Linked DNA regions of Homo sapiens. The protein of the gene in region 3 interacts with the protein of the main gene of each other region in a pairwise test. Each region holds a gene or a part of one and is shown on either strand. Other genes may lie near its edges.

Region 1 (7,000 bases), on a different chromosome or scaffold from region 3:
ATTTTTTGCCCTTTAGCTTGTCAAAATAATGTCTAAAAAACCAGATTGATCACAAAAGATGCATCATAATGCCACATAAAGATGTCACTCGGCGCCTTATAGTATTTAGGACCATAGAGGACACCTGGTGCAGCCTCCTCATTTTGCAGCTGAGCAAGATCTTTGAAGGACAAGGACCTGCCCAAGGCCATCTAGAAACACTGAAGTTGAGACTCATACCCGAGCATCTTAGCTTTTGCCCACCCCACGCTGTTTCTCAGTCTTAACCAGCAAGCTTTCCTTGTTATTTTGGTTTGTCTTACGTCTAGGTTTGATTTGGCAGCACATTTCAACATCTGGTGAAGGCATGGGAATAAAACAGTGTAGGTGGATGGAGCACCTAAGAGCAGAATGTTTGGTGTTCTCTCAGGGTACACTGGGCAAGGCCTGCTGGGCCGTCCTTCCTCGCCATGCTGCCTGCGTTTATTCAGTTAAGAAAGTGGCACATTTTGTATCTTTGAGAATGCAACTATTTTAGTTAGGAGAGTGATGTTCCGTCTATGGAAGACTTTGCCTCTCTCCATCTTGGGCTTGGAGAAGGTGTCCCATGTCCCAGCAGCATGGCTGTGTACAGTCATTGATTCTTTTGTTTACTTCTCCATGCCGTACATTTTGTTCCTGTCCCTTGATCACAAAGAAATAAATGAACGTTCCTGAGGCACTGACATGGGCCGGGTGAGGTGGGAGCCTCCTTCTAGATATTATTATCCTATTTAAATGCATTATGTTCCCACTCATTTCACGATTGCCCAGTATTCAGAGAAGTTGCATTACACAACTGAAGCTCCATAATAAATGCGTGGAGGTGAGATTCAAACCCACGTCTTTCCCATTCTACTTTTTGTGCCTTTCTGTTTTAATTTGCTTCTTGGTATTCCTGTGTATTATTAATAGTCTGAAGCTTGGAAATAGATGCAATAGTCATTAGAGTGAAGAAAATACAGTGCCGTGCTCTCTGAAGGATAACAAGGACATTTTTGTTGTAATTACTATTTTGATTTTTCTTTTAAGAATGTTGCCGAGGAAGGAAAACAGAGGGAAAAACCAGCAAAGCTCACTGTGTCTAACTTTTGCCACATGCATGGACCTAATTTCTTACTTGCCAAGCACTAGAGCCTTTATTTTTGAGACTCTGTGAGGGTGGCTGAGTTCTGTGTGTTTGCTGGGGTTGGAAAAATCTAGTGTGATGGGGGTCAGTGGCCCCATGACACGCCAAGGCAGAGTAAGCCACAGAGCTCAGTCTGCCATAGGTGTGGCTTCCTTCCTTCCTCACATCTGTGTCAACACCCGGCAGGAGGTGCCTGATTCCAGTGGGGATGAAGCAGCCTCTGCCCATCCCTCCATCACCCATCAAGAGCTCTGGACACACATGAGGTTGAACCCCCAGATGGTGGCTGCCAGGGGAGTGTGTCCACCTCTCACTTAGGCCAGGTGCGTGGCATCTCACTGCGGCAGGCATCCCATGGGCGAGGTCGGTGCTCTCCTGATGTCTTTGATATTTTTCTTTATCTGGCCTAGTCTGAGACCAGTACTTTCCCCTGCCTGTGACCCCTGACTTCATTTGCAAAGTTTTCTCATGCACTTTCTGAAATTTTCATGACAGAGAGCCCTGGAGGAATTTGGGGCAACGATGGAGGTGGAAGAAGGTTTAAAGCTGGGAATCTTTATGCATTTTCTCTGTTTTCTCCTTCTCTTTATTTTTTTTCTTGACCTATACTTCACACTGGTCTCTGTCTTCTCCATGCTTAGAAAGCAGAGGAGGCTTGAGCTTCCAGCAAAGACCTTGCGACATGTTACTGGATACAGGCTGGTGCATAGAAGGGGTGGGTGGGGAGGGCTGACAGGAGGGTGTCCCTCCCCTGAGCATCACCGGCTCTGTTCTTGGCCAGTTGCTCTTTGTCCCCACATTTCAGGTTCTCTTCCTGCATTCAAGCATGGGCAGGGCCAGGGCTGCTGTTTCAGGACTGCATCTAGCCCTGAAGTTTTCTCTGGGCCTCCACAGGGGACCTTCCTACTCTGAACTCCACATGCATTCTCCAGGCCACACTGCACACTCACCCTACTCTCCAGTCATTTCCAACTACTTAGAATTCAGTCAGTGTTGAGAGTCACCAGTCTTATGTAGACTGGAGCCTGGCACATAGTAGGTGCTTTTTGCATGTTTACTGAGTGAATGAATGAACAGAAAATGAAATGCACTTTGCCTAAAAGCTGATCTGATCTGATCTGAGTGCCCAGGCATTTCACCCTTCTTCCAAAGCTCTCCTTTTGTTCCTGTGGCCCAGGGAATGCTCAGTTCCAGGCTTGGCAGAGGAGGGGTCTCTCTAGGCAGTGTGAAACAGACTGTGAAGCCCCCATGAGAAATAGTCCACCCACTGGGAAGGCCCCTCCGCTCCCAGGAAACTCCAGCCAGAGCACTCCAGCGTGGGGGCTAGGACTCCTCTTTTCCAAAGGAGAGTAGACAGTGGGAGGAATTCACCTCAGAATGATTTCCTGGAGCAGTTAGGAAAGTAGCATCTCTGAAGTCACAGAGGCTTCAGCTCCACTGGGCCGTGAGAATCCCTTACAGAATTCTGACCCCGACCAAGCAGAAAAGGGCACTGCCGCCTTTAAAACAGTTGACTGCAGAACAAAACAAAATGCTAAAATAAGACTAGAGTAGTTTGAAAATATTGGAAAGTTGAGAAAAAACTCCCCCAAATTCCATGATACTAGCATCATCATAGTATATAGCACATTACATATATAGTGTATTATATGGTATATTATGTATACATACTATGTATACTATATGTTATATGGTGTATGTACATAGTAAAAATTATTTTTCACATATCTATTGCTTTGGTATGTTTTCTTTCATGTTTTTGTTTATTTGGTAGATAGGCTTTTTTCCTGTTTTGTTTTACAACATGTTTATATCTGACACTAACATTGTATTATAAGCTTTTTTTTCCCATACTATTGCGTAGTCTTTATAGCCACACTTAAAAAATGAATCATTTATTTCTAAAAACAGTCAGGTCCATTTTATTTTGGCTTCTGGATCCTGCCCCTCCCCGGGCACTCTCCCACTGCAGAACTATGTTAGGCTCAGTTCCCCAGAGAGCCCTCAGGTTTTCCACACCACAGGCCCCATGCAAGCTTCTTGTGAACCCTGGGCAGTCCCTTCTGGGTCCTCAGAGCTCAGTTTAGATGCCACCATTGCCTGTTTGCAACACTGGCACATGTGCAGGTCCCTGTGTTCTGTACAGCTGAACTCAGGACTGCCTCATCACCACTGTCACTACCGCGCCTCGCACAGGGCCCGCATGCTGCATGCTCTCAGTGAATGCTTGCGGAATGAACGGAAGAGGGAATCAATGAACAAATGACCTGGTGGTCATTTTCTGTGTTTCCTCCTGGGGTTTTTCCTTTGGTGTATGCATTTTGTGTGTGTGTGTGCATAGAATAGGTTACACCAAATCTATAATCTTTTTGTCCTTTTGCCTCCTCAGCATTCGTTCATAAGCATAGCGAGCATCACTGTCCGAGGCTGCACAGTGCTTCGTCTTGCGTATGCATCCTGCTTTGTTCACCATGTCTCTGGAGTTACGCATTTACTTGCTTGTTGCTTTCACCACTATAAACCATGCCTCATTTCCCTCTCCTGTTAGGCAGATCTGACCCTTCAGCCTGCCTCTTCCAGCCATGGTCAGACTGTTGTTAGTCCAGCGCCTGAGGGAGAGTACTTTCAGAGTTCCAGGCCCTTGTGTGACCTCCACCCTTAAGGTGACTCTTGGCACCCACAGGCCAATCAGCTGTATTCTTAGAGAGCTCTCAGAATACAGGCTGGTGGGCTATTTCCCTAAGGAAAAGCTGGGTGGGTTCTCACTGGGGTTGGAACCAAGGGGAGATGAGGAAATGGGAATAGGTTGGACGCCCTTGGTGGAGCTTCATAGTTTGATTTTACATCAGAGTTGGAAAGCAAAGCATACCCTTCTGCTACAGCTAGTGGTTTCCCCACCTGCGCCTGAGCTATGGACTGGGCAGGGGCCAAGTGCCCAGCAAGGAGCACAGGGAAGGAGCAGGAGGTGGAGAAGCTCAGAGGCAGGCTGCAGTAGGCTCCTCGCCCTTCTCACCATGCGGATGTCTCCTCCCTTGGCCCTATGGGAATATGGAGGGCTCACATTCTCCTCTCTGTGCAGGAGCAGGTCTCCACACTCTTTGGGAGGAGGAAGTTGACTTCTTTCTAACAGTTGCTGTCCTGTCATTCATTCATTCATTCATTCATTCAGCAAAGGCTTCCTGAGCTCCTGTCCTGTTGCAGGCTTGATTAAGTACTACAGATGTGAAGGTGAATTGACATATTTGGGTTCTTAGAGTTTGCCTTCTAGCAGACCACAAACAAGTAAATATAATGTTGCACGTGGTGCATGCAGGCCTTTGGTGCCCAGGACAGTGAGGGCATGGAGGAGGGAGTGTTGTCTGTGTCTGAGAGCACTGGGCAAGCCTCAAGGGGAGACTGTGCCTGAGGTGCATTTTGGAATGAGTTCACAGGTACGATGGGAATGAAGCTGCCCACATGTACTTGGGAGTTGGGGGAAGAGTGGGGACACTTGACTCTCACAAGAAGCATGGCTCTGAGAAAATCAGAGACCGCGCAGAAGCTGACAGGGCATGTGATGTGGACAAAGGGGCCACCAGGCTGGGAGGCAGGTCTGGTAGACCGAGGAGCAATGGGTTGAAATTAGGGTCGGGACAGAGAGGGCTGCATGAGGAGCAAAGACCATGAAGTCCATGGTCCTCCAACACTGCGACCCTCATGCTGCGGCCTCCCTGTGCCCTCAGCACTCAGCCAGGGCCAGAGGTAGCTCGAGCATGGAGCAGGGGCTGAGGGTGCATGGCTTCCTCATGATGGAGTCTACTTGTTGACAGATGACCCAGAAACTTCTGAAGGGCCCCCAAGGCCCTAATGCAGCCCCCAGAGCAGGCTCTTTCCCTTCCCCTGCAGACTCTCCATTTCATGCCTGGTTAATCCCCAGGAACCACTTTTGACAGGGGAATCCTACGTTTCTCTCTACTGAGCTGTAGAGGCTGCTGCCCATGGGCATTTTCAGCAGAGACCTCAGTCCCTACTCTGCCTCAGGGAGGTGGGCCCTGGAGGATGGTGCCATCCATGCTCCTTGTCTCCTGAGAGGTGGTGCAGTCAGCACACCCATCCCACAGACAGCGGAGGAGGCCTGAGCATCAGGGTCCTGTCTGATGCCAGCTCATGATGCACTGTGCCTGAGTGATGAATGCCCATCTCACTGCCTGTCGCTTCCTCTCTCTGCAGGGCCCTGTGGCCGAGTGTGTCCAGCCCAGTGTCATGGGGAGCTTCCATATCTCATGGCTCCTTGCTGGGCCAAGCCCTCCAGAACCCCAAACCCCCAAAGACTGATGAATGCCAGAGTGGCCACCTTGCTTATCTGTGGCCCCGGCCCTGGTGATCACCATGGCAGCTGGGAAGGGAGCCCCGTTGAGCCCATCGGCTGAAAACAGATGGCGACTTAGCGAACCTGAGCTGGGCCGGGGCTGCAAGCCAGTGCTGCTCGAGAAGACGAACCGCCTGGGCCCTGAGGCTGCTGTGGGCAGGGCGGGCCGGGATGTGGGCAGTGCGGAGCTGGCACTGTTGGTAGCCCCAGGCAAGCCCCGACCTGGCAAGCCGCTGCCCCCGAAGACACGTGGAGAGCAGAGGCAGAGCGCCTTCACGGAGCTGCCGAGGATGAAGGACCGGCAGGTGGATGCTCAGGCCCAGGAGAGGGAGCACGATGACCCCACAGGCCAACCTGGTGCCCCACAGCTGACCCAGAACATCCCCAGAGGCCCAGCTGGCAGCAAAGTCTTCTCTGTGTGGCCCAGCGGAGCACGAAGTGAGCAAAGAAGCGCCTTTAGCAAACCAACCAAGCGACCAGCAGAGAGGCCTGAGCTAACCTCAGTCTTCCCTGCAGGGGAATCTGCAGATGCCCTGGGGGAGCTGTCTGGACTCCTCAACACTACAGACCTCGCTTGTTGGGGTCGACTTTCAACTCCCAAGCTTTTGGTTGGTGATTTGTGGAACTTGCAAGCATTGCCACAGAATGCTCCACTCTGTAGCACTTTTCTGGGTGCCCCTACACTGTGGCTGGAGCATACCCAGGCCCAGGTGCCCCCACCCTCATCATCCTCCACCACTTCGTGGGCCCTCCTGCCACCCACCCTCACCTCCCTGGGCTTGTCCACCCAGAACTGGTGTGCAAAGTGCAACCTGTCCTTTCGCCTAACGTCCGACCTGGTCTTTCACATGCGATCCCACCACAAAAAGGAGCATGCGGGGCCTGACCCACATTCTCAGAAGCGGAGAGAAGAGGCCCTTGCCTGCCCTGTGTGCCAGGAGCACTTCCGGGAGCGCCACCACCTCTCCCGGCACATGACTTCTCACAGCTAGCAGGTGACCGCAGAATGACCTGCTGGGTGCAGCAGCCAGCCTTTGGCAGAGGGGGGCTCCCTGGGCCTGCGTTGAGGGGGCTGTCATGGTCCTTTGCAGAGCTGCTGCTTTTGGCATTCATAGATAAACAGCTCAGGCATAATTTGAAAAAGCCACACCTGCATGATGTGTTTTGAAGGAAATGAAGTCCTGAAATAAAGTGATGGGCTTTGCAAATCCAGGGTAGAGGCCCTAACAGGCACAGAGAGCAGGGGCAACTCCTGGCACACATCATGGGCTTTGGAGGCACACAAGCCTGGATTCGAATCTGGGCTCTTTCACATACTAGCTGTGACCCTGGACAAAGAGCTTTAACCTGCTGAGTCCCCATTTTCTCATCTGTGAAATGGAGATGATAACACTGTGTCTTAGGTTGGCATTCAGGTCACATGAAAGGTGTGTGGAAAGTGGCCAGCATTCTGCCTGCAGACCCTGAGCACTGAGTCAACAAGGTTTGTGATGATGTCTGTACTA
Region 2 (7,000 bases), on a different chromosome or scaffold from region 3:
GGGATTACAGGCGTGAGCCACTGCGCCTGGCCTGTCCTTTCCATTTTTCTATTGGGTTGTCGATATTTTTCCCTATTCATTTGTATATACTTTATATCAGGGAAATTAGCCCTTTTCATTTGAATAATATTATTTCTTAATTGGCTGTTTGTCTTAAGACATTTTTATGGTGGCATTTGCTGTGCAGAGAAGGTGGTTATTTTTATACAATTGAATTTATAACCTTTTATGATTTTTAGGTTTATGTAATATCTTGGCCTTTCCACTCTGCGATATTTAATATTAAACAACCCCCCTCCCCAACTTTCTTCTAGTTTTTTTTCTTTTTTTACATTTAAGTCTTTGATACATAAGATACTTATTATGGTGTTAAAGTACATCTTACTTTCTTCTCTTTCCTCTATGGGTACTTAATTTGGGTCTTAAACTGTTCATTTAATTATTTTGGAAATAGTCACTATTTACTTTGCACAACTTTGATTTGAGATAAAATTTTAAAATGTTTATTTCATAAATAATTTCCTTTGTGTATTTAAGCTTATTATCTGAAGAAGACACAGCAGTAGACTGAGGTATGTGACATATGCAGTATTTTATTACATAATATGTGGAATACAGCATATTAGCTTAGCATGCTAAATTAGAATTATGTGCAGATTATGGGCAAAAGTAGTAATTTTGAATATTCTGAATAGTACTATTGTTATAAATATGCCAATGAATTTAGAGTTTACTAAATGGGAATGTTTGTACACATATAAATGTAGTTCACAATTACAAATTCTGGATAAACTACATTTGTGGATTAGTCCTTTACTAGCAAATCTGGAGATGGCTGCATCTGTTAACCATAAATGAAGAGTGTTTTTATTGTTACATTTATTATTTATTTATTTATTTTTCGAGATGGAGTTTCACTCTTGTTGCCCAGGCTGCAGTGCAATGACGTGATCTCGGCTCACTGCAACCTCCGCCTCCCAGGTTCAAGCAATTCTCCTGCCTCAGCCTCCCAAGTAGCTGGGATTACAGGCATTTGCCACCATGCCCGGCTCATTTTGTATTTTTAGTAGAGAGGTGGTTTCACCACATTGGCCAGGCTGTTCTCAAACTTCTGACCTCAGGTGATCCGCCCACCTTGGCCTCCCAAAGTGCTGGGATTACAAGCATCAGCCACCGTGCCCAGCCTGTTACATTTATTTTTAATCACTTACTAAGTTGGAGCTTCGGATTTCTAAAAGGGATAATTAGATGACTATAAATACTGTACCAGATCTGGTTAATTGTGTGTTCAGTTATATGTATAGTGAGAATATGCTTGTTCCATTTTCACCTAGTTTAGGAAATTTAATATAAATTAAGGGACTGTAATTCCAGAAGTAGTAGAAGTGCTGCAAACAGATATTGTAAGCAGACATTTTAGAAGGGGATTCCACTTTAAATTGGATTGCTTGAGCCCAGGAGTTCGAGACCCGCCTGGGCAACGTGGTGAAATCCTATCTCCACAAAAAATACAAGATTAGCCCGACGTGATGGTGCATGCCTGTGGTCCTAGCTGCCTGGGAGGCTGAGGTGAGGGGATCACTTGGGCCCAGGAGGTCAAGGCTGCAGTGAACTGTGACTCCAGCCTGGGTGATAGAGGGAAACCCTGTCTCCAAAAACAAACAAACAAAGTCGTAGCAGAGTACTTTGATTGTAGAAGTAATCTCTGACCTGAGAGGTTCTGTAGTGATTATTTTTGCTGCCCTTTCTCTAGGCTGCTCTTAAAATGGGGCAGTGAATTTTATAAATCAGAACTAAATATGTTTTAAAGCATCTTGCTATAATGCCTCAGCACTGCGAAAAAATACTGGTATTTCTAAAAGAATTTAGAGTTACAAATATAGCAACTGAAAAAAATCTTCAAAAACATTTTCTGTTTCCACTAATAACATTAGTTTGAGATGTTTAGAAAGCATAAAGGATTAAACATGATTTTGTTTTAGTTGTTGATTTTGAGAATGAGGGCTTTGTGTTTTCCACTGAGGGATTTGGGTGCATTTGAAAAGATCTTAATGTTATTCTCATAACAGCGACTTTTGGGTAATGTAAATAAGATAACAAATTGTTATGTTTAGTTTAAACTCATGATACTTAAGCACTGTTTACTCATTGTCATTAACTATTCCAACCTTAAATTAAAAATGCTTACCTTAATTAAAGCTGTATTCAGACAACTTCCTATGGTTATCCCTGCGTTGAATTTCTTGTGCTTCTTGAAGGAGGATTACAATAAAGAAACCCTTCTTTTATAGTTTTTGATTTCAACCCTCACCCTGCAGCAAGTTTATTCAGAACATTATGTTGATTTGAATTGCTGAATTTTATTGTAATACCAAAGCAGAGTGGTTTGGTGGGTCTTTTGGTGCATAATGAGTCCAGGAACTTTAGGTGATGAGTAAAGGATTTTAATTAGTTTTTTAATAAGGATGGTGTAATGATTATATATACTTATGGTACATCATATGCATTGTTCAAATTAAAAATGATTAGTTCAGGAAGTAGACTTTGCTCAGCAGTTGCCTTATTTAGTTTGGAAAACATTTATGGAACACATAGGCTCAATAATGGATTAATTAGGTCCTCTTCGAAGAAATGGATAATTCCAAGTTGAAAGCAGAAAGTGTGGAGGATGAACTTGGAGTGCCCTTGTCATGCTGGAGTGTAAAGAGGCTGTCAAAGATTAGGACTCTGGAGCCAACTCCAAGAGGCTCTCAGTTGCCCAAAGATGGGACAGTTTGATCATCAGTAAGAATAGCAACTGTAGTGCACTGAAATCCTTAAATCCATGAGTTTGTAATGATGACCAAAAGAATAAAAACAACTCTTGACTTTTGGAGGATGCTAGGAAAGTGATGCATTCTTTCAAGATCAGGAAAATAAAGGGAAATAATAAAACATTTATTGTGCATTTCCTGTGAGAACTGTATCTCAAGGTAGCCAAATAGCTGATAAGAGGAAGTGTCTGTTTTAGTTATACTTTACTGCCACTAATAGATGAAGAAGGGATGATGTAATTAGTATATCATGTATTCTGTCCCAGCTAATATATGAAGAAGGGGTGATAGAGTTAGTATATCATAACTTTACAGCTCCTAATGAATTAATGAATCTAGAGTCTATAGACATGATTGTCAGAGGCTACTAATGTCTCAAAAAGAAAGACAAGCTGGCATAATATATCTTGTGGTGGAAATACTTATTACCACCTATTAATAGTCTTGCCAAAATAATCACCCTTTAGCTATAACCATGATTTTGTTTATTGTCATACAATAATTTTGATTATTGTCATACAGGGAACAAAGGAAGATAGGGATGCAATCAGCAAAATTCTGATTGTGGAAATCTATGGAAAAATGAAATGGTTTCTTAAAAATTATAAATTGTAAGAAAAGGAAAAAGAGGAGAAACCTATGGATTACAAGAGATTTAAGAGATTAAAATGCATACTAGCCAATTGCCGTGATGGACTTTATTTAGATCCTGATTAACTACTTGTAAAAAGTAAAAGTTTATGAAACAATCGAGGAAATATAATCATCAGCTGGATACTTGATGATATCGAATTATTTGAAACATTTAAATGTGACAGTGGTAGTAATGTGGCTGTGTTTATAAAGAGTCTTTATCCTTCATTTTATTTTTTGGAGATGAAGTCTCACTCTGTTGCCCCAGCTGGAGTGCAGTGGTGTGATCTCTGCTCACTGCAACCTCCGCCTCCCGGGTTCAAGTGATTCTCCTGGCTCAGCCTACCGAGTAGTTGGGATTACAGCTGCCCGCCACCATGCCTGGCTAATTTTTGTATTTTTGGTAGAGACAGGGTTTTGCCATGTTGGCCAGGCTGGTGTTGAACTCCTGACCTCAGGTGATCCACCTGCCTTGGCCTCCCAACGTGCTGGGATTACAGGCATGAGCCACCTCGCCCAGCTGAGTCTTTATCTTTCAAAGAAATATTTTGGAGTCTGGGATTTCCTTCAAAATAATCTTTGGGTGGGTGGGGATAGTAAGTTGGGGGTATAGTTGCAATAGGATTGGTCTTGAGTTAGTAACTGCATTTGGGGCTGGGTACAGTGGCTCATGCCTGTAATCTCAGCACTTTGGGAGGCCGAGGTGGGCAGATCGCTTGAGGTCAGGAGTTCGAGACCAGCCTGGCCAACATGGTAAAACCTTGTCTCTACTAAAAGTACAAAAATTAGCTGGGCATGGTCATTTGTAGTCTCAGCTACTAGGGAGGCTGAGGCAGGAGAATTGCTTGAACCTGGGAGGCGGAGGTTGCAGTGAGCTGAGATCATGCCATTGCACTCCAGCCTGGGCAACAGAGCAAGACTCCATCAAAAAAAAAAAAATTGCGGCTGGGTGGTTCATGATGCTTATTCACTTTTGTGATACTGTTGTATTTAGCGTATGTCCTAAAATTTCTGTACTGTAATTAGAAAGAGCTAGTCACAGCCTTCAAGAATTTTAAGAGCTAGATATAAAAAATAAATGAATATGGCATGTTAACAGTTATTATAGAAGTCGGTATAAATTGCTGTGGGGGCACATAGAGTGTAGAGTGAGCCCATAAAAAGGTTGAAAGGTAGAGTGTGAGCTTGGGCCAGAAAGACAATTTCAGTGGCTTTCCAAGCAAAAGAAGAGCAAATGCAGTGGTATGGAGCTGTGAAATTATACAGCTGAGGGAGCATCAGATTTGGAAACTAATTCTGGTTTTATGGTAGAGGATGGCACAGATGAGGCATAGACAAATCTTCAAATAAGAATTCTATTGAAAATAGGGAGTTAGAGGGCGTGCAGCTTGGGGATTGTGGTAAAGGAAGGTTTTCATTCATTCTTTTTTTTTTTTATTTTTGAGAATAAGTCTCCCTCTTGTCGCTCAGGCTGGAGTGCAGTGGCGCAATCTTGGCCCACTGCAACCTCTGCCTCTCGGGTTCAAGAGATTCTCTTGCCTCAGCCTCCCGAGTAGCTGGTACTACAGGCTCCTGTCACCATGCCTGGCTAAGTTTTGTGTTTTTAGTAGAGATGGGGTTTCACCATGTTTGCCAGGCTGGTCTTGTACTCCTGACCTCGGGCGATCCACCCACCTCGGCCTCCCTAATTGTTGAGATTATAGGCGTGAGCCACTGCCCCCGGCCTCATTCTTTTTTTTTTTTAAACCTTGAATTAAAATTTAAATTACTTGACAAGTTTAGATCACTGTTCAGAGAGAACTGACTAGTCATGAAAGTTTCATCTTCAGAAATTATCCTATTAGTGAGTTTATAAGTTCATCTTTCTGCTTCTCCCTTCCTCTCTAGAATTAGCTAATAGCCAGCAAAATTTTGATTTTATCAGCCCTGTTTAACTTATGTTTGTATCTTTGGTAAACTAGATCCAAGAATAATAGATTTGAACGTTATAACATGTATTGTTTCATCACTATCATATGGAAACTTTTACTGTCCTGTTACAGTTTTGCAAATGTTTGTCCTGCCACCTAAAGGATACAGCATATTATTGAAATTTCCACCTGCACGTGCTTATTTATGCAAAGGAAGTCAAATTGATTTCTGTGGGGAATTTGCCTAAAAATGGATGGTTGAAATGTGCTGCCTGAAATTATAAATGGAACAATAGGATATAATACTCATTGCCTTATTTTCCTTAATCATAATACAATTAAAAGCTTTATATAGCTTTTATATCATTAGAAAAGATAATGTCTCTTCCAGGCTTAAAAATGTAGCCCCAAAACACAAGAATAAATTGGATTGTTTGTAGTCACACAAACAGTTTTGTCTGTTGGCTTTGTTTTATTGTCAGAAATCCTAAATATTGTTGACATTGACTTATTTTCAAATGATACAGTCTCCAAGATGATATGCAGAAGATGAACTGATGTAGCTGAGTGACCAAAGGCACTGGCAAAGGATCGATGAGTTGTATTTTTATACAGATGCTCCTTGACTTATTATGGGGTTATGTCTTGGTAAACCCAGTTTAAGTTGAAAATATTGTAAGTCGAAATGCATTTAAGACACCTAACCTACACAACATCATAGCTTAGCCTAACCTTCTTTAAACATGCTCAGAACACTTAGCCTCCAGTTGGGCAAAATCATCTAACACAAAGCCTATTTTATAAGAAAGTATTGAATATCTCATGAATTCAATACCGAATACTCTATTGAAAGTGAAAAAACAGAATAGTTGTACGGGTACTCAAAGTACATACAGTTTCTGCTGAATGCATGTAGCTTTTGTACTGTTGTAAAGTCAAAAAATCCTAAGTCTAACCATCATAAGTTGGGGACTGTCTGTAATTGAATGGGACCTGGCCAGGTATCCTTGAGAGAGCGCAGGTGAATGTCTCAACCAGTTAGGATAAATGACTGTCCCACAAAAGTCATACATGTTCATTGTAGAAAACCAAATATAGGCTGGGCGTAGTGGCTCACGCCTGTAATCCCAACACTTTGGAAGGCCGAGGTGGGCGGATCACTTGAGGTCAGGAGTTCGAAACCAGCCTGGGCAACATGATGAAACCCTGTCTCCACTAAAAATACAAAAATTAGCCAGGCATGGTGGTGGGCACCTGTAGTCTCAGCTACTCGGGAGGCTGAGGCAGGACAATGGCGTGAACCTGGGAGGCGGAATTTGCATTGAGCCGAGATCGCGCCACTGCACTCCAGCCTGGGCGATGGAGCGAGGCTCTGTCTCAACAGCAACAAAAAAAATTATAAGTAATTTGAAATTATTTGAGCACATACAAATGTCCCAATTAGAAGTACTCAGTAAATGCTAGTGAGTTACTTAGAAAGAAACTGCTTGTGAGAAATCCATGTGCTGATAGCCAAGATTTATTGAGCATGTATTTCCCAGGCATTGTTCTAAGTGCTAGTAACTCAATCCTCACCGCAACCCTAAGAAGTAGGTACTATTGCCATCATTTCAGATGCAAGTTAAATAATTTACCTGCCCAAGA
Region 3 (7,539 bases):
CAGCAACCTTGAAATAAACAATACATTAGTATTAATCTGATGAACATCAAGCCAGATTGATGGGGGAAGCATGAGATAAAACACAAATTACCAATATCTGGAATTAAATAGTGAGAATTTATAGACACTGCAGATACTAAAATTCATGATAAGGATTATTATGAACAACTTTATTTCAGTATTTTTGCAACTTAGGTGAAGTGAACAAACTCCTTGAAAAATGCAACTTTCACACAAAATGAAATAGAACAACTGAATAGCATTGTGAGGTTTCTATAAGTAGAGGTAAGCAATTTGATGTAGAGGTCAGCAAATATACATATATTTGCGTGTGTGTGTGCATGTGTGTGTGTGTGTGTGTGTGTGTGTGTGTGTGTGTGTGTGTGTTTGAAATGGAGTCTCACTCTCACCCAAGCTGGAGTGCAATGGTGTGATCTCGGCTCACCGCAACATCTGCCTTCCAGGTTTCAGCAATTCTCATGCCTCAGCCTCCCGAAAAGCTAGGACTACAGGTGTTCGCCACTATGCCCAACTAATTTTTGTATTTTTAGTAGAGACAAGCCTTCAGCATATTAGCCAGGCTGGTCTCAACCTCCTGCCCTTAAGTGATCTGCCTGCCTGGGCCTCCCAAAGTGCTGGGATTACAGGCTTGAGCCACCGCGCCCAGACATTTTTTTTCCTAGTTAAAAACAAAACACAACTTTTTCACATGGGAGACTCCTGGAAGAGGTGGCCTCACTGGACTCCATCAAACATTTAAGGAATAAATAACACTAATCTTACAGAATTTCATGAAATAAAGAGGAAACATTTCCCAATTTAATTTATGAACAGTATTACTCCATTCTCACACTGTTATAAAGAAATATCTGAGACTGGATAATTTATAAAGGAAGGAGGTGTAATTGAGTCCCAGTTCCACATGGCTGGGGAGGCCTCAGGAAACTTACAATAATGGTGGAAGGGGAAGCAGGCACTTCTTACATGGGGGCAGGTGAGAGAGAGCGTGGGAAGGAGGAACTGTCACACACTTACAAAACCATTAGATTTCCTGAGAACGAACTCACTATCACAAGAACAGTATACGGGAAACTGCCCCCATGATCCAATCATCCAGGTCCCTCCCCTAACACGTGGGGATTTGGGGTTTATAATTTGAGATGAAGTTTGGGTGGGGACGCAGAGCTAAGTCATATTGTGAACCCAGTATGTAACTTGATACCAAAACCTAACAAGATCATTAGAAGAAAAGAAATTTACAGGAAATATTTCTCAAGAACATAGATGGGGGTGGAAATCCATTTGCTAATCCTATCAACTAACTGAATAAAACAATTTACATAAAGGATAATGTAGAGTGACCAAGTTATTCAATATGATTGATCATGTTGTAGGGTCACCCAGATCATCCCTCCACTTCCTTCTTTGCCTTGGGAAACAGATTACCTTGACCACCCTGTGGCCCAGCCAGCTGTGTGTTTCCCCTGCAGCTTGAACCCGAGCTGACCCTTGAACATTCCCAGGCACTGTTAAAAGTTATTTAGGTTGTTGCCCAAAACAGTGAAAATCAACCAAGTTGCTGCACGTGGATACTAGCTCTGGCCCTGAGCCAAATTTCTTAAGGCCTCATGTAAACTCTTATAACCTGTCGCACAAATGTTAAAAGCAACAAGACAACTGCTATAGCAGAGATGCGTGCAAAGTGCTCTGGGAGGAGCCACATCTCCACATGAGGCAGTTGAACGACGTTTCAGCTGAGTCTTGACATGTGAGTTCATCCAGGAAACGAATAGCAGAAGAGCATTTGACCAAGAAAATAGTACCTACGAAGCTTGAAGGATGGCTGGAGCTTAGGGTTTGTGAGACAGAACATCAGGAAGTGAGCCCAGAAAGGTAAATTGGCACCAGGTTAGGGAAGGTCATATTTGCCAAGGTAGAAAGTTTGCATTCCATAAGTGGAAGGCGACAAAAAGCAGGTTTGTATTTTAGGAAAATGATTCTGGCAGCCTAGGTGGATGTTGTAAGGTAAGAGCATAGTATTATGCAAAATAAACTACCGTGTTGTTGTCGGTTTTTTTTTTTATCATGGCCTTTCATGATGTCTATTTCTTTTTCTCTATTCCCAATGTTCCTTTCTTCTGGTGATGATATGCTATAGAAATTGTCACGGGTGATTAGCAACTATCTGGGGCTGGTGGCATGGGGGTAAGAAGAATTTATCAAGATAGTTGTAGGTAAAGAAAGGCAGATATATTAGAGAACGTATGAAAATACGTTGCAAGGAAGCAATGGGCAGCACAGCAGAGAAGGGGCTGTCTGCAAGGAGACAAAGGCGTGCTGGAGATTTTACAGGATGGTGCTTGTACTGTGTGCTGAAGAGGGTTTGTGTGGTACTGATAACACTAAGGTTGCAGTGAGCTAAGTTACATTTTTCTATCAGCTGAAGGTCTGGTGATAGCTGGGTGCAGGAATATTGTGCAGGAGGGCTATGTGTCCTGGACCATGAAGAAGGTGAGTCTTATACATTACCTGCTTTCTTTCTTTGTTTTTTGTTTTTTGGTTTTTTTTATTTATTTATCACATTGTGCAGGTTAGTTATATATGTATACATGTGCCATACTGGTGCGCTGCACCCACTAACTTGCTTTCCTCTGGTCCTGCCAGCCTGACTTCTTTTCCCTAAGGAGGACTCCACAGAAATGAATTCTGGGTGATTTCTATATTCTACGATGGAGACTATAGCTATAGATCATTATACAACACTACCTAATTAATCAAGACCAAAATAAATAGTCCTACCTGCAGGACAATAACCAGTAACAAATAATTTACAATTAGAAATTAGTTCCAGACAGAAGGAAATATTTCTTATTTTACCTGCACTTACATGACTGCATTTTAGCTAACTGGAGCCTGTGATGGACAACCAAAACATGGGTTTTCTTCACAGATATTTTTCTTTTGACTCATTAGGTTACTGTGAAAAGATAATTTTCTTTCAGAGATTTGTAATTTTTCAGAAGTGTTTTTGAATCCTTGAACTCATATTTGTTGCAGAGCAGCGTCAATATACCATGAGACACTCTAAGAACTTTTTGCATAAGTGTTGATGTGTAAAGAGAATCACTAAATTCAAACCCAGCTCTGCCCAGGGAGTAATAAATCCTAAGAGACTATTTTAACTCACTTACATATGTTCTTCTGGTTTGGTTTGGTTTGGTTTCTACTATCAGGTACCTAGGAAGTAGCACTCAAGATTAGGAGAAAAAATAAGTTTATTCTGGATCAAAAATTTTTTAACTTTTTCAGATTAATCTGTTTTTTTCCTATAATGTTCTTAAAAATTCTAGAGACAATTTTCTCTATGCACCTTTGAAAATGAAATAAATGTAACGACTAAAACCAAGCAAAGTGAAATAGATTATCCTTCACAATGGAGGTGAAATCCAAGAGATAATTCAAAAAAATTACGTATCTCAAGTTCCTGTCTGTCAGATTTGGCACCAGAGATTTCATCCAGTGGAATTACTGATTTGGAACCTAAATAGAATTTTATTTTCCAAGTTCCAGTATTTTCAATTTTCATGAAATTCAGGCCTTCATAAATAAATAAATAGGAGAAAACAGGCTCTACATCTCAGAAGAAAAGATTCCTGTGGGTTCCTTGCCCCTACTCTGAAGTATAATCATTAAGGAATTCCCAAGGGACTAAAAGGTTATAACTTAGAATTTATATTTCACTCTTATTAGGAATACAGGTAAAATAGTATAACTTATCTAACAATAAGCAATGAGAAATGTGGAGAAGGCAAGTTTCAGGAAATCAAAGATCATAATTCCAGCTCTAACCAATTTATATTTTAGCCTGCAGAAAAACAAGTTATTCCTATCAGTTATGTAAAGTGACTTTTCCATTTGTACGCAGGTAGACATGGTTTGCACACACACACACACTTTAAACCCAATATATAGCTCACTCCTCCAGTCTTTATCAGCACATGCTCTGAGATCACAAAAAGCATTGAAAGATTACTAATCACACTGACCATTTTTATGGTGGTGGCACAAACAAATAATTGTCATTTTGTGAGCTGTAATACTAATTTTAAAAGGGGACACAAGCAATCAATCCACAGAATCAAAATCTGTGGACATATTATTTTCCTGATTTGTAATGAGTTGTATCTATAATTATTCATTGGCCAAATTTTCTCTTTCTTTTATTATTCTGTCAAAAGCACAATGCTTCCTATGACGATTTTCTGAAATAAGTGTTTTGTCTTGCACATGGAAATGGTGTGGGTCCTGCTTTGGTAACCTAAAGTTATCCCTATTTTATGAGGCATAAAACTCTTCCTCAGTAAATAAACAACTCTAATGAGATGTTTGTACGAAAACTGGCACCATCAGTGATAAAGAAAACATCCGGTGCAGTCTGTAAACACCCATTTTGGGGGGTTATAAAACTCTCAGGAGAGGAGAGTTTTGGAGTCAAGGCAACTGAAGTTTTGCAGCCAGTCTCTGTCTTTGCTTCTGGAAGGATGACTTCTGACTGCTCCTCCACACACTGCTCTCCTGAGTCCTGTGGCACGGCTTCCGGTTGTGCACCTGCCTCAAGCTGCTCCGTGGAAACAGCTTGTCTCCCCGGTACCTGTGCTACATCCCGATGTCAGACTCCAAGCTTCCTATCCAGGTCTCGCGGGCTGACTGGTTGCCTCCTGCCATGCTACTTTACTGGGAGTTGTAATAGTCCCTGCTTGGTGGGGAACTGTGCCTGGTGTGAGGATGGGGTGTTCACTAGCAATGAGAAGGAGACGATGCAGTTCCTGAATGACAGACTCGCCAGCTATCTGGAGAAGGTGCGCAGCCTGGAGGAGACCAACGCAGAGCTGGAATCCAGGATCCAAGAACAATGTGAACAGGATATCCCAATGGTGTGCCCGGATTATCAGCGTTACTTCAACACCATTGAAGATCTCCAACAAAAGGTCTGTGTCCTGTTGCCCTAGTGCTCCACCTTCCTGATCTATGGTTTGCTTTATCTTTCTACTAGAAGGGGCTGTTTTACAGAAGGAAACCAAGGGAAAGGAAAATTCTAAGAGTTAGTGATACATAGGGGAGAGCACCGGACTGAAAGTCAGAAAACCTCAGCATCAGCCCCAGAGCTACCCCTGATTACTGAGTGACTATAATAAAGTAACTTGCCTGTAGACTTTTCCTTCATCATCTATAGAATGCAGAAAAACTGTATTATATCCAAAATCGCTTTTGTACGTGACACTGAACATTTACATTATCTGAACACAGATCATGAAATGCCATCTTTTTAACTACCTAGTAATCATTTTCTTCTCTCCATGAATTTCTATTATTATGGGAGAGGATATACTCATAATACAAACTACTGATGGAGAAAACATTAATGGTGTTCAACTGCCTGAGAATGTTGCAAAATGTCTTATGTTATTAAAAAACTAAACCTTTTTATTTCATTATTTTGTTTCTAAATTGGCTCTGCTTTTTTTCTTCATGAAGTGACAAGGTTAATAAAAAAAAGCAGGCTGAGGGTGATTTTATACTTTCTTATAAAGACTTTCAAAAGATAGCTAATGGCATAGCTGTTGGATAGAAGTTTACTTAGGTTTCTCTCAAAGAATCATTTATCACATAATGACTTGCTTCCCAGATCTTATGCACGAAAGCAGAGAATTCTAGACTTGCTGTACAGCTTGACAACTGCAAACTGGCCACTGATGACTTTAAGTCAAAGTAAGTTTAATTTAATTTTATTTTATTTATTTATTTTGAGATGGAGTTTCACTCTTGTCACCCAGGCTAGAGCTCAATGGTGCTATCTCAGCTCACTGCAACCTCTGCCTCCTGGGTTCAAGTGGTTCTCCTGCCTCAGCCTCCTGAGTAGCCGGGATTACAGGCAGGCGTGCACCGCCACACCTAGCTAATTTTTGTATTTTTAGTAGAGACAGGGTTTCACCATGTGGGCCAGGTTGGTCTCGAACTCCTGACCTCAGGTGATCTGCCCGCCTTGGCCTCCCAAAGTGCTGGGATTACAGGCATGAGCCACCACGCCCGGCTTTAATTTTAATTTGAAAATAACTTATGGCTCTCTCTCTCTCAATCTCTCTCTCTCACACACACACACACACACAAATATTCTCTATATAATATTTTAAAGTTAAGAATGTTTTAAAAGCTTGAATTTATCATTACTTAGGAATTAAGAGAAATTATGCACATGGCTTCCTGAAGTCCGTGTGTCGATCCTCCATGTATCCCCACACTTTGCACAGCGTTCAGCAAAGTAAGCGTTGGATTTCTCTTTTGCTGTGAAAGGTACGAGAGTGAACTGTCCCTTCGCCAGCTGTTAGAGGCTGACATCAGCAGCCTGCATGGGATCCTGGAGGAACTGACCCTGTGCAAATCTGATCTGGAGGCCCATGTGGAGTCTCTGAAGGAAGATCTCCTTTGCCTTAAGAAAAACCATGAAGAGGTAAGGAAAGTGGCAACTCCGCTGAAGGACTCCGAGAGTAACGTACTTACATTGACAGATGATCTGTTGATGTTTGTAAATCGAATTTGGGCAGATGTTGTTTAAGCTGGAATAAAACTACTTGAGGCAGGGCCAGGCATGGTGGCTCACACCTGTAATCCAAGCACTTTGGGAGGCTGAGGCAGGAGGATCACAAGGTCAGGAGTTCGAGACCAGCCTGACCAATATGATGAAACCTCATCTCTACTAAAAATACAAAAATTAGCTGGGCATGGTGGCAGGCGCCTGTAGTCCTAGCTACTCGGGAGGCTGAGGCAGGAGAATCACTTGAACTCAGGAGGCGGAGGTTGCAGTGAGCCGAGATCTTACCACTGCACTCCAGCCTGGGTGACAGGGCGAGACTCCATCTCAAAAAACAAACAAACAAACAAACAAACAAAAACTACTCGAGGCATTATTACTATTCAACCTGATCATTCCAGTGTGTCTCTGATTTAAGGTGTGAAATAACCCCTAGACAGCGCCAGAGGAAGGAATCAAACTCTTCTCCTGCCCTTGCCTTTGTGGAGGAGGTAACTTCACAAATGGCTTCCTTTGGAGGCTTTATGCCACCCCTAGCTCCAGTCCACAGGGTATGAAAATCAGGCTGAGGAACAGACTGTGAAGTCCATTTCAAAAAAGGGATAAAGACTGTGCACTATCTGGACCAGTGTTTTTAAATATTCCGCATTTATAAACTTCTAAAAATCATAAAATATACAGCCACTGATATATTGATAAAGCTAGAAAATGAAAAGCTGAATGATGTAACAAAGTACATTTGCTCTTTGAACGTTTGTTGATGACAATCATAGCTAACATTTATTGACACCTTACTATGTGTCATAATTAACTTTTATAAGTTAATTATGTGTAGATTGACTCTTCTAGATCTCACAATAACTTTCTGGAAAAATGTCCAATTATTATGTCCATTTTACAGACGAAGAAACTGAGGCCCTTCTAAGTGGTGAAAAGAGATTCAGCCCAGG

The links.
Region 1: the proteins of KRT40 (region 3) and ZNF488 interact in binary tests that used the Homo sapiens proteins (3 or more experiments, as listed by UniProt).
Region 2: the proteins of KRT40 (region 3) and UACA interact in binary tests that used the Homo sapiens proteins (3 or more experiments, as listed by UniProt).

Annotation. Positions count from the first base shown.
Region 1 is NC_000010.11:47,367,294-47,374,293, reverse strand, and holds part of ZNF488 (zinc finger protein 488), read left to right. Parts: intron 1-5,356; 5' UTR 5,357-5,464; coding exon 5,465-6,487; 3' UTR 6,488-7,000. UniProt on the Homo sapiens protein: Transcriptional repressor. Plays a role in oligodendrocyte differentiation, together with OLIG2. Mediates Notch signaling-activated formation of oligodendrocyte precursors.
Region 2 is NC_000015.10:70,753,559-70,760,558, reverse strand, and holds part of UACA (uveal autoantigen with coiled-coil domains and ankyrin repeats), read left to right. Parts: intron 1-7,000. UniProt on the Homo sapiens protein: Regulates APAF1 expression and plays an important role in the regulation of stress-induced apoptosis. Promotes apoptosis by regulating three pathways, apoptosome up-regulation, LGALS3/galectin-3 down-regulation and NF-kappa-B inactivation.
Region 3 is NC_000017.11:40,981,276-40,988,814, reverse strand, and holds the start of KRT40 (keratin, type I cytoskeletal 40), read left to right. Parts: upstream 1-4,488; 5' UTR 4,489-4,541; coding exon 4,542-4,988; exon of another isoform or gene 4,989-5,686; coding exon 5,687-5,769; exon of another isoform or gene 5,770-6,351; coding exon 6,352-6,508; intron 6,509-6,835; exon of another isoform or gene 6,836-7,490; coding exon of another isoform or gene 7,491-7,514; exon of another isoform or gene 7,515-7,539. UniProt on the Homo sapiens protein: May play a role in late hair differentiation.